Linked DNA regions of Homo sapiens: region 2 is linked to region 1. The links come from fine-mapping of genetic effects on gene expression. A gene starts in region 1. The other region holds a variant in brackets. All regions are shown on one strand. Distances are between the middles of the regions. Region 1 holds the start of BNC2-AS1 (BNC2 antisense RNA 1). Region 2 overlaps LINC03041 (long intergenic non-protein coding RNA 3041).

Evidence for each region. PIP is the estimated chance that this variant, and not a neighbour inherited with it, causes the effect.
Region 2: its variant is fine-mapped to the expression of BNC2-AS1 in thyroid (GTEx, PIP 0.96).

Annotation. Positions count from the first base shown.
Region 1 is chr9:16,723,585-16,728,971 of GRCh38, forward strand. BNC2-AS1 (BNC2 antisense RNA 1) reads left to right here and starts at 3,230. Exons shown (of 3, transcript NR_151723.1): 1 at 3,230-3,371; 2 at 3,447-3,522; 3 at 3,731-3,940. It overlaps BNC2 (basonuclin zinc finger protein 2), which reads right to left. Exons shown (of 7, transcript NM_017637.6): 3 at 4,213-4,413. RefSeq lists an enhancer at 2,813-3,314.
Region 2 is chr9:16,210,017-16,215,403 of GRCh38, forward strand. It overlaps LINC03041 (long intergenic non-protein coding RNA 3041), which reads right to left. Exons shown (of 4, transcript NR_171034.1): 3 at 5,200-5,263. Among named protein-coding and RNA genes, the nearest start is that of LINC03041, 64 kb to the right of the region's middle. The variant A/G (reference allele first, on the strand shown) is at 2,978.

The DNA of each region.
Region 1 (5,387 bases):
ATTTCTTGAGGAAAATTCATATTGAGCACTGTTTTAAATGGATTCTAGCAATGTTATTATACATTTCTTATATTTTATTTATCATTTCTCTGAAAGGTGCTAGATTTTTATATTAGTAAGAAAGTTTGCTTTTACTCTGTCATATCTCTGGTGAGCAGACGCTCTGGTATTAATGTAAATCGTTGATTTAATTTTTAGCTTTCTTGGTTTGCCCCTCACCTATCTAAAAAATGATTTCTCTGGTGATAACTAACACATCATGCTAATGAGAGAATCTAATGCACAATAGAAAAATGTCACTACTAATAATATTTGCATGAAGTTAAATAAAGCAACTGTAAGAGAATGTCAGACAGTTGTTCTTTAATAAGACACAGTTTCACAATGAAATTATGTTGTTAATTTTGTTACATCATCGGGTGAATCCTAAATTACTACATAATGATGCAGAGAGTCATTTATAATCCTAACTTAGTATTTCACTCAAGTATGAAAAAAGACCTTATTAAGGGATCTACATTTTATTTGAAACAGGTTAAATATACCTCACCAATAATAAAAGGTAAATGTCTCTAGTAACACATTAAATGTGGGCTATAGCTATATACCTTTATGGTTTCCTTTCTAAAAAGATTTTTAAATAGACTGGACTATTACATCCCTTGAGATAGCTACAAGAATTTTATTTACTATTCTCTCAAATGCACAAAATATTTATACAAATAGAAGAATTGCCTCCTCAAGTGTGATTAAAAAAAAAACTTTGAAAAGCAAGCCTCATTTTTTGCTTTTAACAGTACCTTGTGAAACTAAAATAGGCAAAATAAGGTTCTTTCTCCACCTGTCACTGATCAAACTGATCCAAAGAAGAACTCCCTTTACACAAGTGTCATACCCTTTAATGTTCTCAAATACTCAGCTATATACATAGAAATAATTTGAGAAAATCATACTTGAGTATAGAAGAAAAAATGTACAGGCACAGGAAAATGTAGTCAAATAGACTTCACTTGAACTTTAGGGGCACATACTTCATCCCACTAAATCTAAATTGGCTTCAGATTGTGATTATTTGTTACTATTAGACAGAATGAAAGATGTACATTTAAGCAGATCCAACTTTGCTCATATGAAACAAAAGACAAAGATTTTTGTATCCCTACTTCCTAGTTTACTAATAGAACACATAAAACTAGATTATTAAATTTCAGTATTCATGGACATTTCCCACAATTTTCTCTATAGTTAAATACTGATGGTAAATTATCTGTAACTCAGTTTTGAAACCTTTTATAGCAGCCCTACTAGTCAGAGTTTTCAAACGTCTAAATAAATAATCAGGAAAATATTAGTTTTTATACTATTAAAGAAAACTTTAAAAAAAATAACCCAATAAATTTTATTCATTTCATAAGCTAAGTAAATTTTACTTAGAAATAAAATAATCATAATCTAGAGAAACCTCTTTATGCCTCAGCAATGAGATGTACAGAATTCTACATATTTGATTAAACTGGACAAACTTTTACCTGTAACAAAAACTAGCGTAACTGTATATATTGAAAGTAATACTCGTTTAAATGGCTGGCTTCAAGAGATATCAGAGATATAATTTCAATAAGTCTCTCTCTCTCACACACACACACACACACACACACACACACACGTGCTGAATCAGCATTGCTGATGAACTACAGGTAAGAAAAACAAACATATTAAATATGAACAGCACACATACTTTCACTCACATAGTTTGAACTTAAGTTATGTAATATTTATACAAACTAAAATGTCATCTTGAAGAGAAAAAAAATGCAAGCTCATATCCTCTTTTACATGCTTTCCAAAAATGCACAAGAGGTAAACATTCAGTGACCATGACAGAAAAAGGTGGGTTGGGGGGATAGGAGTGATTGCTAACTACATCAAAACCAAAAAAAAAAGAAAACATATTTAAAACTGTGATTTCTCTCCTTTTGTTGTACTACTCTATTTCATAAATAGCATAATATTATACAGTTTTAATAGCATCCATTAAGCATAAATTAGTTCCCTATATTTCTATTCTCTCCATATAATCACTGATGCTCACCATTACACATATATGCACACACAGGTACACACAAAATATCCACACAGTCAGACAGCTGGATCAAAGACATCATAAATTGTCCTAATTCTGACCCATCATTTATATTACTTTATTTGTTTTTTAGTTAAAATGTTTTCCATGACAAAATCTCCTTAGATTCAAATCTACTTGGAAATGGGCTAGTGCCAAATAAGCAATCTAACACCATCTATGTGGTTCAATAGCCATTTATCAATTGATCATTATCTCTATCTGGTTTTATTAACTCTTTTCTAGCTAGAGGGAGACGTAAGCCAATCTTCCCTTCTAACACACACACACACACGCACACACACACACACGACCTCCACTAACTCAAGGAAAACCCTGAAGGTGACATCTAGTTTTAAAAGTGAAGCACAAGTTATTTGGTACTAAGGTTAGCGAAAACACTGCATTCCAACACGCGAGAGCCACCCAGGCAGGGATGCGTCGCGGAAAACACCTCTCACAGCGCTCTGCAGTGACAAGGAGCATCTCTGTGTGGAAATGAACTTTTCACTTGAAAGAATGGGAAATTGCACATGAAGAGTTACTTATTGGGTTGATGTTGATTGCATTTAAATCCCAGCTTACTGTATCAGCAGTAATCAGGGTCCCTCTACAGGATATGTCAAAATATACCTTATTCAAATGCATTTATCCTATTTAGAATTGTGTGCTAAAACTGTTCTCTAGCTAAATGCTACAAAACCCTGGTTGTAGGTATTATCGCTTGCAAATGTATTTCTAAACTTGTAGTAGTTTATAGCCTGGCAAATTGTTTTTTTTTTATTATCAACAACTTTAAATATCTAACTCAAAGTATTTAATTTTCGTGAACTCTTACAAACAAAAGCTTTTTAAAAAAAAAAAAAAAAAAAGCAGTTGCAGTATTTTTTTCCTCTTGAGTGGCACAACATTTCTTAATAACCGCCGTCAACTTAAAATCCAAGTATATTTGTCAATAGTACTTTCGTGCTGTGTGGATGATAATATCAAACTAACTTGCTTTGTGTGTGGATGATAATATCAAACTAACTTGCTTTGTGTGGGTTTGGTGTAGGCTTTGGAAAAGCAAGACGTGTCTAGGAGGGAGGCACCAGGGAACTTCCCTCCCTCACTTGAGCACAATCCAAGATGAAAGTTTCTGGGTTGTGTCCCCTTCGCTTCCTCTCACCCTCGCTCCCCCGCGGAGCCAAGGAGCCAGCAATTGTGCAAGAGGAGACCGGCGCACAGGGCGCGTATCACGGAGCGCATGGTACGAGCCGCCGGCTCCGGTGATTAATTATCAGTAACCGATGGCCTCGCGCTACCACGTCGGCTTTCCCAGCAGAGCCAGCAAGCCGAACGCCTCCAGCGCGGCCGGGACGGAGGAGCGGCTCTGGGGAAGACGCCGAGGCTGCGCCCGAGTGAGTGCGCCGGCGGGCCGGCGGGCGGGCGGGAGAGCGGGCCGGAGCCGGCGAAGGGAATGCAGGGGCGGGCGCAGAGGGCTGGCTGGCAAGGAGGAGCGGAGCGGAGGAGCGAGGACCGAGCAGCACAGCCCGCCACGCACGCCGACTCCTCCAGCAACCCTCGGCGCTGGCAGCCAAGCCTGCACAGCCTCGTCTCTCTTCTCAGGTCTGAACGAAGCTGCCTCCAGCCACATGAAGTCAGTAGGGCTGTTCTGAGGGGCCCCGAGATTTGATGACTGTTTTTTAGGTTGCGGAACCTACTCCGAGAGAGCAAACACTTTGGACGAAGTGATTCATATTGATAGATACATTTGTTGGGAGGTGGCTTTTTTCATTCTCAACAGAAAACAAAGAAATAAATTAAGTCTTCCCCTGACCCAGATTGTACTGTGAAACTTTTCAACAATGTCTCTGCTTTCTTTTACTTCGGTATCCTTTCCCCTTTTTCTTTTAAGACGCCCTTAGGGAAACCATGAAGTAACCCTGCACATTCCAGTAACACAGTTATGACAAAACAAGAGCCTAACTAGGAAGTGACCACATTTTAAAAAGTATTTAGAAAGAAAAACACCAGAAACAAAAGTGCCCATAACAATTCAAGGTTTCTTAAAAAAAAGAAAAAAAAAATCAAGAAAGAAAGTAACTTACCTGTTGGGACATTCTGAATAAGAGGTTAGTATCAGCGTTTTGCCATGTCCCCATGAACCCTGGTTCAGCCGTAGTCGTTCTGGTTCCGAACTGCATGGAGTTGTCAGTACAGGAGTCTCTTAAAGTCAAGTCTCTTGCCCTCTTTGGCTCTCTGTCTCTCTGTGTCTCTCTTTCTCTCACATCCACTTCTGCCTCTTCTGACTGAAAAGTGAAGGTGGATTTTTTGAGCCTCTTGGCAGCCAGTAGCAGGAGTGTAGTGTAGTTAAGAAGCTGGCTGAACTGTGCATTTCATTTGGGAAGGGGGAGATTTGGGGGAGGGAGGGGGTCAGAGCTTCTTTCGCACCTTCTGCACAGATATCCCTATCATTTATGCATAGATTGTGACTCCCCAAGCTTGCCTTTGCTCAGTTTAACAGCTGCCTGTCAGGTGTGCAGGCGGCACTGGAGACCCAACCATCAGCTTCAAACTCTCAGCCACTGCATGTCATTGGATAGCAGAGCTAAGAGTCAACTGCACTGTTCCACTGTCAGGCACCAAATGACACCCTGCACTAACCCCTCTCCAGATATACAGATAGATACACACTTATGCACACTCCAGGCAGCACCACAATCACGGTGCACAGGGCAAGGGGAAGCTAGGGCCCTTCCCCGGGAATTTTTCTCAACAATGCTTTCTGATATAACACATAATATCTGACACCAGTCTTTGGCTTTAACATTTGTAAAACTGTGATACTTAAATTTTTTTTTAATTACACTGAAGAAAGTAAAATATTCAGCTGTAAGAGAATGTAAAGTTGGCTCAGTTATGGTCTAAATGTTAGCTCCTGAAAGTCATCTCGTATGTGCTGGGCTATTTATAACCACATAGAAACTCCTAAATAACGTACATAGAGATGTGACCTTATACTCTAAAGAGTAAGCAAATAAGCCTAGCAGTTTTTATAACATAGAAGATGCACAATAAACATTTGCCAAATATAAATATATACTATTTAATATCTAGTACCTCAGGCTATTAATTACTAAACTGGATGTTAGCTAATGAGAAACTGAATGGCAAAGGAAAAAAGTATACCTTTTCTTAAAGCTCAGAAGTAGAAAAAAATCCTTTGTTAAAGTTCCTAGATGAAGCATCTGCAATATCCTTTCAAATCGTTAAGAAAAGAAAA
Region 2 (5,387 bases), 510 kb before region 1:
CTGGACCCTCAAAACTCTGTTCCATGGGTCCATTTGTCTCTATTTACACTAGTATCACACTGCCTTAATTACTGTGGCTGTGTAAGTTTTGATATCTCTGGTAGTACAAGTCCTTCAGCTTTCTTCTTTTTCAATTTTGTCTTGACTATTTTTGACACTTTGTATTTCTACGTAAATTTTAGAATTAGCTTACCAATTTTAAGAAGGAAGGGAGAGAGGAAGGGAGAGTGCATGGGAGAGAGGAAGCAAGGGAAAAAGGAGGAAGGACAGAGAAAGAAAATCTGCTGGGATTTTGACTAGTATCGCATGGAAGCATAGGCCAATTTGAAGAGCGTTAACATTTTTACAACTATGGGTCTCCCAATCCAATTTACATGTTATATCTCCTCATTTATTTAAGTCTTTAAAAACTATTCTCTGCAATGTTCTGCATTGCTGTGCATTGGTCAGGTGCATATTTTGCTAAATTTATTCCTAACAAGGTGCTTAATTTTTTAAATACTATTATAAATGGCATCAAATTTAAAGTATTATTTTCTAATATTTGTTGCCAGTATACAAAAACATAGCTGATTTTTGTATGTTGACTTTATATTCATTAGTTTAGCTAAATTGCTGACTCATTCTAATAATTCACCTGTAGATTCTATGCATACAATCATGTCCACAGATACTATCAGGTTTGTATCTTTTCTAATCCTTAAATTTTGAAATTTCTTTTTCTTGTCTAAACTACTCTGGCTAGAACCTCCAGTACACTGTTACATAGAAATGGTAAGAGTGAACATCCTCGTCTTGTTGCTGGTCTCCAGCAGAAGTGTTCGTATTTCATTATTAAGTACAGACTTTTATAGATGAAAGGGTTCCCTTCTAGTCCTAATTTGATGCCAGTTATATTTTCAGTGATGAACAAGTTCTGAGTTTTAACAAATGCTTTTTATTCATCTTTTGAGGTGTTCATATGGTTTTTCTTTATTTTGTTTCTGTGGTGAATTATATTGATTGATTTTCTAGTGTTAAACCAACCTTGCATTTTTAAAAGAAACTTTATTTTGTCATGATATCTGATCCTTTTAAAATATCTCTAGATTTGGTTTGCCACTAGTTTGCTCAAGAGTTTCATATCTATATTACAATGAAGGATTGGCCTATAATTTTCTTCTCCTGGAATGTCCTTGACAAGTTTCAGTATCAAAGTAATGCTGGCCTCATAAAATGAGTAGCAAAGTATTCCTTTTTCCAGTCCCTGGAAGAATTTGTGTAACACTCATTTTTTTTTTTCCTCATATGTTTGAAATAACTCCTCACTCAAATGTCTGGGCCTCAAGATTCCTTTGTAGGAATCTATTTACATTATAGATTCAATTTCTCTAGCAAATATGTGAATATTCAAATTATCCATTTTTTCTTATGTCAATTTTTGCATTTTTCTAGGCGTGTGTCCATTTCACCTGCATGTTCAAAGCCACTGACATAAAATTCTTCATAATATCATCTTAATATTTTGTTTAATGTCTTTAGTGTGTGTGTTAGTAGTTTATGCTTTTGATTTATCTAGGTCAGTCTCTCCAGGGATCTATTTATTAGGCTTTCCCTGAAAATATGGACAAATACATAGAAATTCATTATTCAATAAAAAGTTAAGAGAATGCCAACTGAAAGATATGTAGTGTGTTGGTAGTTAAAAGCAGGAGAAATTGTAATTGATTGGGAAGCTCACAGGGGACTTAAAGTGGGAAATAATTGAGATAAACCTTAAAGGAAAGGTAGAATGTTGACAGTATTAATAGAAAAGGCATTATTGGCATAAGAGAAATTTGGATAATGTGCAGCAGGAAATTGAGAAAAGATGGGAAGGTCTGGACAATCAAGAGATTTGAGTCATAGACAATGAGAAGACACCGAATTCATATTTTCAGTATTTTCATATGTTGACTATTTGGAAAATATAAGGAACGATGTTGAGGAAAGACACTAAGTTGTCCAGCCTGGTGACTGGGAGAAGAAAAAGAAGGCAAGAGGAAGAGCGTTTCAGGGTTAGAAATGTTTGACTTTGTAGGTCCCAGTCAAAAGCTGCAGGCTGGAGCCAAGACAGTGGAGGAGCTGTCAAAACAAGCAACAGCATGAGGATGTGATCAGGCTGTGTCCAGAACCATGGGCTTTAGTCCCTTTACAGCATAAGAGGAGGAAGGAGTCAGTGAGCATAGACCAGAGAGGGGAGCCTGGAGCCACAGAAGCCAAGAAAGCAGGCTTTCTAGTAGGGCAGAGTTCATTGTATCAGACTCTACAACTCAACCGAGGGATGAGGACCCAGAAAGCCACTGGACTCAGCATGCGGGAAGTCACTGTGGGCCTTTGTGGCATATATTGAGATAGTAAATGTCTGGTGTCAATGGGAAGAGAAAGAAGAGAGGGCTTCATTCTAAGGGGCATGCTTTTCCAAGCTGTGCAACCCACTCTGTCTTCCATTCACAATTATTTATAGGTTGCCTGCCTATTCCAGTCACAAAGCTAGGTAGTGATCAAAGTAGACATGACCCCTCTCCTATTGAGCTCATATCTAATGAGGAGCTAAACATCAAATAAATATAAAGAAATGATTAAAAACCATGATTAATGCTTGGGGAGAAAGAAGAGGGAATTATGAGAGAGAATAAAAGGAGGAGGCCGATTTAGATTGCAGCGGGGATTGGGGAACGCCTGACCATGGATTCACATGTAGAGGCATGAAAGAAAGAGTTCTGACAGCATTGAAATAACAAGATGGGCTGTTCGAGTGTCTCCTTCAGGGGCCAAGTAAATTCTGGGGTTCTAGAACTTGCCGGGCATCATGACCCCACAACTTCATCTAATTCCCAAACCTCCCTCCCCATCACATGCCTGTCTTCAGGAGACGGAGAATCAGTCAGAAAGCAGAAACCACCACAAGTCAAATTAAAGGAGAAAATGTGTAGCTCAAGGCAAAAATCTTCTTCCA[A/G]AGAACACAAGGAAGATGAATCTACCATTGTTGAGTTATAATGTTGGGGGATTATGAAGGCTAATATGATTAATTGTAATTATCATTTATAATGTATACTTATAATGATATTGCTTCTAGAACATCTTCATTATCTTTCACTTTTGAAATGCTGCTTGGGCTTCCCAACAGATTTCAGAAGGGGCTTTTATTGGGCCCAGATCATCAATCCAAACCTTTTAAGGTAAGGGTGTTGCTACCTCAGAAGCCAAAGAGACATTTCCTGTCCTGGAAAGCACTAAATAGTCATTAGCTTCTTCAATCTGTTTACCAGCCCGCCTGTCACTGGGGTTCGACAGGCCTCAAAATTAACACTCTACTCTATTTGTCCATCACAGGGCTGTCCCACAGACTGCGGTTCTCAAGTGGCCTCAGGCAAGCCTTATTTCATGCCAGAGCTAAGTTCCTGGGGAATAACATGTCTAAATTGAATTTGGTTTATTCAGGTCCGTTTGAAATGAAGCCTTGTTTAAAAGAAAGCCATACTCAATTTTATTTTTCAAGCAAATCTATCTTCATCGTCTGACCTAATTGGTCTCAGAGACCCTAATTTGGAGAGTTTTCATGCCCTTCGTTTATCATTGTGGCAACGTCAAAATCAGGATGGTTTCTTTCAACCACCTATGCTGCCTTTGTAAGAGCAAGGATGCTCCAAGCAACACTGGTCTCCCCAAGTGTCAGCGAGGCCCCTCTCTCCATAATCTCTGGCCACCCTCTGTCTGTCTCAGTTTCTTCTGACTTCACTGTAGGGCTCCCCAGGCCTCCTCAGTCTTGTCTGTCTCACCTGGACACCTGCTCAGTGGGAACCCATGTCCTTGACCATCTCGGCTGGCCCATGCACCTTGGCCTGTTTGTATTCAGACCTTTTGGAATCCACAGGGACAACTCACCAGTGACCAGGGGCAGAGCAGCTGTATCAACTCAGCTTGGGGAAGCTCAAGTATCCAGTGATCTTGGCTGTGTGGAGTTTGAAATGAAGCCCAGTGTATTACTCACGGCAAAACCAGGGGCCAGCCAAGTTAAATAGAGCACTCCCCGAAACATTCACGGACTGATTAGAGAAGGAAGCTCTGATTTGAAGAGAGGCTATTTTGTGTCTGCTTTTATTTTTTTAAACAACATGCTTTCCATTAGTGAGATGGGAAAAGTAGAAACCTGAAAGAATGATATTTATTAATTTAAAAAGTTCAGGTCTGTGACCATATGCCATGTCCCTTTGACTTCATAATAATGGCCACACTTTGAGGTCTTCCTTTGTCCAGAAACTGTGGTAAGCACTTTGTAAGCACTTTCTCATGTAATCTTTATGAAAACTCTGTGATGTAGGTACCGTTCTTACTCCTGTTTGCAGATGGGCAAGCTGAGGTCCAGAGAGAGTAAGCACACACTATTTTTAAGTGGTAGAGCTAAAATTTGAACCCTGGCAGTCTGCCTTCCTATTCTTGCCCGCTCTTAAACAAATGCAAGTACCCAGGAGCTTTCATGAAGAGAACCCCTCAAAAGAAAGCTGACATTACCCCACGGGTTCATAAGTGGGTGCAAGTTTTTTTTTTTTTTTTTTTTGAAAGATCTCTGAAGGCCAGGAATTCAATAAGGCGGAACACACCCCACTGAACCAAGCAGGGCTTGAGTTTGCAGATTATTTTCCGACCAGAAGGAGTTCATTGACTTGGAGGAAGAAAGGAGATCATTTAATGGACTTACAGAAAATATTTTTGTTTTCGCTTTTTTTCTCTCGCAGAACAGTTCAAATCTTCCAGGCCACGGTTCATTCCCTCTGTTGGCCTTTCTACCTGGGATTGTTATGAGAGGCCTGAAGCTAAGTCCCCGTGTCCCCCACTGGCCAAGCCTGCCCTCTCGTTTGGTCAGCGCACCGACACTGCCTTTGCAGCTGCATATCCACGTAGATATGTTTATTGGAGCACTGAGAATCTCACTTCTCAAAAAGCCCCGGGAATTAGATTGTTTTCCACACTGAAAGTTTTCATTTGAAAAATAACCCTCTTTGTTTAACTAATGAAAAGGAGGGGCTGCTGCTCGCTTCTCAGGCTGGGTAAGAATTCCATGGGCAGTAATTCTGTTTCTCAGTGGAAAATGTTTCGGTTTCTTAATGTTGTTTTGCAGACTGGTCCCTGCCCGGCCCTTGCTCCCAGGACCACACATACACACATGTGCACACTCACCCATGCACAGTGCAGCATTTTCCACCCTTCCCTGTTGGGGATGGTTGCATCCTCTTTCCAACACCTGCAGAACAAAAACGAGGTGGGTCAGTGGCTGTCACCCAGCCAGAGACATCCCTGCGTGTACGGGAACAGAACGCTTTCCCTGGCCACGCTTTCAACCCCAGAGGCTGGGTGGGCCACAGAAG